Homo sapiens: one gene and its partner. Changing the gene in region 1 together with any one later gene gives a genetic interaction. Each region holds a gene or a part of one and is shown in the gene's direction. Other genes may lie near its edges.

Evidence for each region.
Region 2: changes in GTF2E1 (region 1) and SNRPD3 together harm fitness less than expected from each alone (positive genetic interaction), as found in Homo sapiens cells (one large-scale study listed by BioGRID).

The regions. Positions count from the first base shown.
Region 1 is NC_000003.12:120,766,675-120,770,326, forward strand, and holds part of GTF2E1 (general transcription factor IIE subunit 1), read left to right. Parts: intron 1-3,652.
Region 2 is NC_000022.11:24,569,382-24,573,033, forward strand, and holds part of SNRPD3 (small nuclear ribonucleoprotein Sm D3), read left to right. Parts: intron 1-2,534; coding exon 2,535-2,596; 3' UTR 2,597-3,652. UniProt on the Homo sapiens protein: Plays a role in pre-mRNA splicing as a core component of the spliceosomal U1, U2, U4 and U5 small nuclear ribonucleoproteins (snRNPs), the building blocks of the spliceosome.

The DNA.
Region 1 (3,652 bases):
ACATTCCTTCTTTGAACTCCAAAACATTTATGTACTTTATTTTTTGCACTGATCCCTGATTGTTTTATCTCCAGACATCTTTCTTCCCTACTAAAGCTTCTTGCTGACTGGTTCTGTCTGTGTATGCCACCACCACTCTCTCAGTAGCGTGGGTGCCTGCTTGCTACATAGTATGTGCTGGGTTTCCGTGTCCTCCTGCCCCTTGCCACTTGCCCCTTCTGATTTCAGGAAAACTGATTTGCATTTTTACAATGCGTAGTGAAATGTATAAAAAATGCTGCTGGTATATTAAACTGGTCTTAAGTCATTTTCTGTAAAATGTCAAATTTCTTACTTTTCTTGCATTTTTTAGGGTCCCAGAAGAAAAATAAGAAATTCTACATTTGGCTTTGACAGGCTTCTCATTTATAACTAATGTTTTTGTGATAAACACAGGGCTCAGAGATGTCAGGCTAGCTTTTCCTTTTGTAATATTTGCTAGATGTGGTATTTATTGGGAGACTATTCTCCATGGGTCTCTCACATGTTATGCATGTCTTGGCAAGCAGAGATACAGACTGACTGCTTTTTTTCCTGGACTATCATTTTCAAGGATGTTTATATAACGAGCAGCCTTGCAAGACAGAGATAGTATTTCTCTTCAGAGCAAAGAGCAGGTTTGCTTATGGTCCAGTATAAAAAGTGTCTCCTTCCAGAGCATGTTTACATAGAGTTTATAGTAAGTAAGGATAATGCCACCCTCCAGTGCAAAGAATGGGCATGCTTATGCCCATTATAAAATATTTGAGTTCCTTTTAAGCTCAGGCTCTCTTTCCTGTAACACAACCCATTGCATGTGTAATTGTTACCTGGCCCTTCTATCGCACCCCATGGAAATTGGGGCATGGGGAACTGGCTTAAATACTGACACTGGCTACTGCTATTTCCTTGAGTAGTGAAGTTCTTTGTCTCTGACCTGGGGTCTTGTGTCTTCTGCCAGTATCCATGAAACTGGCAGAATAACTTGTTAGCTTACAAGTAGGGTAAAATCTCAGACCCTTCACAGTTCTTAGTAATAATGTTAAAGCTGCTGTTTTCATACCTGCAAAATCAGCCCTTCTGTAAGTAACTCCTGTTAAGTTTGGATGAGATTAGAATTTAGGTGCCTTATGACTATATACTTTATTTTTCCCCCTATTCTTTTTCATGAAAATAAATTACTCGAGTTAAAGGACTGTCATTCTGAGATTGTCCTTCTGTGAAATAATGATATTAGTGTTGTTCTCTTTCTCTCTTTTCCCCAAATAAAAGCACTGCTGTTTTATGAGGATGAGCTACACTGACAAGCATGTTGATTTGTTTACTTAAAGCTGAAGTTTGGAGTACATATTGTCTTAAAATGAGAAATGGGGTATTTGGGAGGACATTTTTTTAAAATTCGGGTATAACATGACTTTTTAATGATAAATTAGATAAATAATAAAACATGTTGGATAATGATAATGCTAAGGGAAAAGAAAATGAAAGAGGATACGATTGTTTGGGTGGACAAGACAGTTGAAATTTTAGATAATGTTGGCTACAGAAGGCCTTACTGGTGGCTTCTGAGTAAAGAACTGAAGTAAGTTTGGAGATGAGCCATGTGATTTTCTGGAGGGAAGGCATCTGGGTAGAGGGCACAGCAGTGCAAAGGCTCTGCAGCAGAGTGTGCCTGATGGGAGACATTGAGGAGGCCGGTTTGTGATGCTTTGAAAACAGATAATGAGAGGGTTGGAGTATTAACCTTTGTCTTAGCTGTGTTTCTATACTTTACCCCAGAGCATTTGCTTTTATGTTTATATATTAATCACCTTTCCATTTGAGAAATGAGATTCCTTTCTTTAAAAACATTTTGAAAACTACAGAACTAGATAACTTGTCTTCCAAACTATTCTTAGTTCTCATTGACAGTCTCTGTAGGTGCTTATTTTTCAACAGTCAATTTAAGTCCCAGTCTCACATTGGTGTGTTTTTTAATTCAGCAGGTATTCGAGAGCTATATTCAACCCTACTTTATGTGGTTTATTTTTAAGCCCCCACATGATTATATTCCTTGCTTCTGTTGAAGAGAAGAGGCTGAGACAGCTTGGAACAGTTGGAGAATAATATAAGATAACATTCTACCTAAAACCTTTCTAGCCAAGGTTGCTTCTTACCCTTTGTTACCAAATATAAAAGCTAGTTTTCAACTCTTGTTGGCCTCTTAATATTAGGACCATACATTTCCTTGAAACACCATCCTGTCACTCTGGTTGCACCATTTCTCTTTCTCAAGGATTCCTCATTCCTTGAGTTTATGCCTTAACTGCTTCTTCTCACTCTCCTTAATCTCTTCGGATGCTTCTATCTACTATATGGCTTCAGTTACCACCTATAGGTTGTTGATTCTCATATCTAAATTTGTAGTCTAAACCCCTCTCTTGAGCTGAATTGTTAGCATTTGTAATTAGTTGGCTTTTTACATATTCATTTTTATATTTAAAGCAATTTGATATCTTTTACCTAAAAAAAAAAAAAAAGCTAGTTCTTCCTCTCTTTACTTTGGTATAATAGTATTCTTGTCCAGTTGATTAAGTTATAATCTTTATGTTCGTGACCATTAGTCAAAAGCTATCAGGTACGCACCTGTAGTAAACAAAGTTAGGTTTATTGATGCTTTCTGCAGCAAGGGAAGCCACATACCATGGGGAAACCATGAAATGTCGGTAAGATGATGTTGGACAGACTTAGAGAATGTGGGCTTTTGTTGGGTAATTTTGGGGAGGATTCAGGGAAGTGATGAAGGTTTCCTTTGGATTGGATGCTGTGAAGAAGTGGGGATAATTCTATGATTGGGTATCTTCATAAATCTTATCTAGGAGGTGACAAGAACAGAGTGACGCTAAAACTAAATGGTAAAGAAGCAGCAGTCACTTGTGCAAGATGGGATTTTTTGTGGTTTGCATGGAGTCCTTGCTTTTGTCTGTTCTCAGACGCAATTCCACAGTGGCTTGGGTTTGCCTCACTTCCATCATAGTCTGATGTTAGTGATCTGTGAGATCTTGTTTGACAGAAAAATGCCACAGTCTAGCTGTGAGTGCTGAGCCACCTCCTAGCTGTGAAGGGCTGCATTTCTCTCTCTTTCTCACTTATTTGGGATAGATGTAGATTAGGTGGCATTTAGACAATAAGAAGATGTATTTTAGGGTATTTGAACAAATAATTTACATGCTATTGGCTATGTGTGAGGGGCAGTAAAGAAAATTATTATACTGGTAATGTATCAGTAGGATCTAGTGTTATGTTGAAGTAGAGATCACTTGGTTGTTTGTTCTTTATGTATCAATCATACATGGGGCCTTTTATAGCTAAATGTTTGAGTACTTAACTATTTGCCAGACACTAAGTACTTACATGTTCCCTTTTAATCTTTCAAGTAAGTTGAGTCAGAAAGGAAGGATGCATATTCCTGTCTTTGGGAATAAGAACCAAACTGGAAATCCAGGTGTGGCTAGTGGTGTAGACTGTTAAGTAATGTTTAAGAGTGTGAGTTTTAGCATAATAGATTGAATTGATTAGATACAAATGGTTAATAAATTTTAAAAAATAGCCTGTGACAATGTTCAGGATGACTAGAAACTCTTGGTTTTAGGTA
Region 2 (3,652 bases), on another chromosome or scaffold:
AAAGGTTTGCAGCCAAGGAAGGCACTGGATTCTTCATTGGTATCTTTAGCTGCTGTACATGTTTTATATGTGTGTGAGGAAAAAAGTCAAACTGTGTTTTTCCTCTGCTCTCACAACACAACAATCAACAAAGACTTCTGTGACCAAGCAAGCAGTCAGTTCTGCAGTAGACACCAGCTGGGTGTCCTTCAGTTCTGACACTATCTACCTGGAGATAGCCTGAAAAACCACAGGTTGAGGGCTCGGTCCCACAAGACAGCCCCTGCACCCCCCACTATTATTCATAAGCACAGGCCTCCAGAACATCTGAATGGCTTCAAGCCAGGGTTCTCACGTCTCACTCCTTGGGTTCGATTAATTTGCTGGAGTAGCTCACACAACTCGGGAATCACATACTTAAATTTACTGGTTTATAACAGGATATTTTATAGGCTACAAATAAACAGCCACATGAAGAGATGCATAGGGTGAGATCTGGAAGGGTCGCAAGCACAAGAGCTTCTAGCCCCATGGAGTTTCCTCCCGGCACATGGATGAGTTCTTGTTCACCTTCCTGTCAGGCTGCGCATGATCAGCTGTCCCGAAGCTCCCCTAACCCTGCCCTCTTGGGCCTTTTATGGAGACTTTATTGGATAGTCATGATTAAAGGATGGACAACCATGTGGAAATGCCATTAGACAAAATGGGTGTGATCTAACACTAATAGACGGGGTTGGGAAACCCCGCGAGGCCTGTCCAGATTCTTTTTGGCCTCTCTCTGCAGCATTTGTTCCTCCAGGGTATAGGGCAGGACCTTTCTCTGGAGTGAGGTCTTATGACCCACAATCAGATTAGGGTCCTGCCTTGGGCAGGTGAAAGGAGGGCAGGAGAAGTTTCAAGAGAGAGATTCTGTCTCCTGAGTCCTGCTTCTGAGGCCTAAAGTGCCCCAATGTTATAACAAAAGACTATAACAAGGACTATAGGAGTTACGAGCTGGGAACCATAGATGAAAGCTCAAGTTTAAAGATGTAATAGTGTGAGGGGCCGGGCGCAGTGGCCCATGCCTGTAATCCTAGCACTTTGGGAGGCCGAGGTGGGCAGATCACGAGGTCAGGAGTTCGAGACCAGCCTGGCCAACACAGTGAAACCCCGTCTCTACTAAAAATACAAAAATTAGCTGGGCATGGTGGCAGGTCCCTGTAGTCCCAGCTACTCGGGAGGCTGAGGCAGGAGAATCGCTTGAACCCAGGAGGTGGAGGTTGCAGTGAGCCGAAATCGTGCCACTGCACTCCAGCCTAGGTGACAGAGCTAGACTCCATCTCAAAAAAAAAGAATATTTTATTTGTTCTTCAAAGCCTGTCTTCTCCTAGAACCCCTGGGTTACAGAGGAGAACAGCAGTCTTATCATGCTATTTATATGGAGTGTGTTTTCTTTTTGCTACTATGAAATAATTCTTTTTTTTTTTTTTTTTTTTTGGAGACTGAGTCTCCATCACCCAGGCTGCAGTGCGGTGGCTTGATCTCAGCTCACTGCCACCTCCTCCAACTCCCAGGTTCAAGTGATTCTCTTGCCTCAGCCTCCCAAGTAACTGGGATTACAGGCGCATACCACCACGTGCAGCTAATTTTTGTGTGTTCAGTAGAGAAGGGGTTTTGCCATGTTGGCCAGTCTGGTCTCAAACTTATGACCTCAAGTGATCTGCCTGCCTTGGACTCGCAAAGCCCTGGGGTTACAGACATGAGCCACTGCACCCAGCCTGAAATAATTATTTTCTCAGAAAAAAATACAAAAGATAATATAACCCTTCTCCCAGATCTAACACATGTTAACACTTAACTATATTTGTTTCAGAATTGAAAAAATTAATTCAGTGCATCTATAATGTTTTTCAGCTCACCCAAGGCCAGCCCCAAGGATTTGTCTTTTCTGTAGCTCTCAGACCACCTTCTTTGCCCTCAGCATGCTGCCTCCCAGCCTCTTGTAGAGAGCAGTGTGGGACTGGAAGGCAAGAGTGTGCTGCTAGCTCCTGCTTTGATGCCAGTCCCCAGCCCCTGCCCCTCCGTCTCCATCCCCCCTGTTAAATGCAGTGGCTGTCAGCTGGACGTGTTGGCTTATGCTTGTAATCCTGACACTTTGGGAGGCCGAGGTGGGTGGATCACCTGAGGTCAGGAGTTTAAGACCAGCCTGGCCAACATGGTGAAACCCTGTCTCTACTAAAAATACAGGAAATTAGCCGGGCGTTGTGGTTCACGGCTGTAGTCCCAGCTACTCAAGTAGGAGGCTGAGACATGAGAATCGCCTAATCCCAGGAGGTGGAGATTGCAGTGAGCCGAGATCATGCCACTGCACTCCAGCCTGGGTGACAGAGTGGGACTCCGTCTCAAAAAATAAAAAAAAAAAAAGGCGGGAGGTGGAAATGCAATGGCCAGGGTGGTGTTGGACCAGGTAACCCTTCAGAACCCTTCTAACTGGTGTCCTAGGGCCCTGGCTACTCTGTGCTATGAGCATTCACCGACCACACTGACCTGGCCTCATATTTTCTCTTCCCTTTCAGTGGCCGCAAGAGGAAGAGGACGTGGAATGGGACGTGGAAACATCTTTCAAAAGCGAAGATAATTTTCTAAGTTGAACAGAACTTTGTCCTTTTTTCTTTCAGGTTATCTGAGTTCATTGGAGTGGGTGCTTGTGCATATATGCTAGGTATCTTTTGCCATCTTTCTCTTTAGATCAGGGGAAATGTTTAAGCTAAATAAATCTGGGGGGTTTTTTGTTCTGTTTTGTTTTGTTTTCTTTGAGAAAATAAGGACTTTGTGTTCATTTGAAGTTTGCTTTGGCTAAATTTTGACACCCTGGGGGATGTCCTGGGAGAATGCCAGTACTTTGAAATAGCACAGCTATTGATGAGATTTTAAGCTGCTGTTCCTGGCCAGTTGCAGGTTAAGCCCCAGAAAAGTTCACCTTGGAGAAGCTCCGAGAACACACAGATTGTGTCTCATTCATCTTCAGACACAGGCACATAGTGTGGCACTTTGTTCAGTTAACATTTGTGGAGCTGTCATCAGCTCAGCTTTAACAACACAGGTGACTCTTTCCCTTGATAAAGTCATAGGTAATTCAGGGGCTGGGTGCGGCGGCTCACGCATGTAATCCCAGCACTTTGGGAGGCCAAGGCGGGCGGATCACGAGGTCAGGAGTTCGAGACCAGCCTGGCCAATATGGTGAAACCTCGTGTGTACTAAAAATAAAAAAATTAGCCGGGTGCGGTGGCATGTACCTGTAGTCCCAGCTACTCGGGAGGCTGAGGCAGAAGATTCGCTTGAACCCAGGAGGTGGACATTGCAGTGAGCAGAGATCATGCCACTGTACTCCAGCTTGGGTGACAGAGCGAGACTGCACCTCAAAAAAAAAAAAGTAATTCAGGGGATCCTAGTGGCCAGCTTCCTTGGCTCGTATACTGGCTACAACAAGTAGTTTTGTGGTGATTTGTGGAAACAGATTCTTGGGAGCATATCAGAGCATCTCAGCATTGATTGGCACATCCATAGTTGTTAATGTAGGAAGGGTGACCAGCAGCTCAGCACAGTGGCTTGCTTCCAGCACTCTGGGAGGCTGAGGTAGAGGATTGTTTGAGAGGAGTTCAAAACCAGCCCGCGAGACATAGTGAGACCCTGT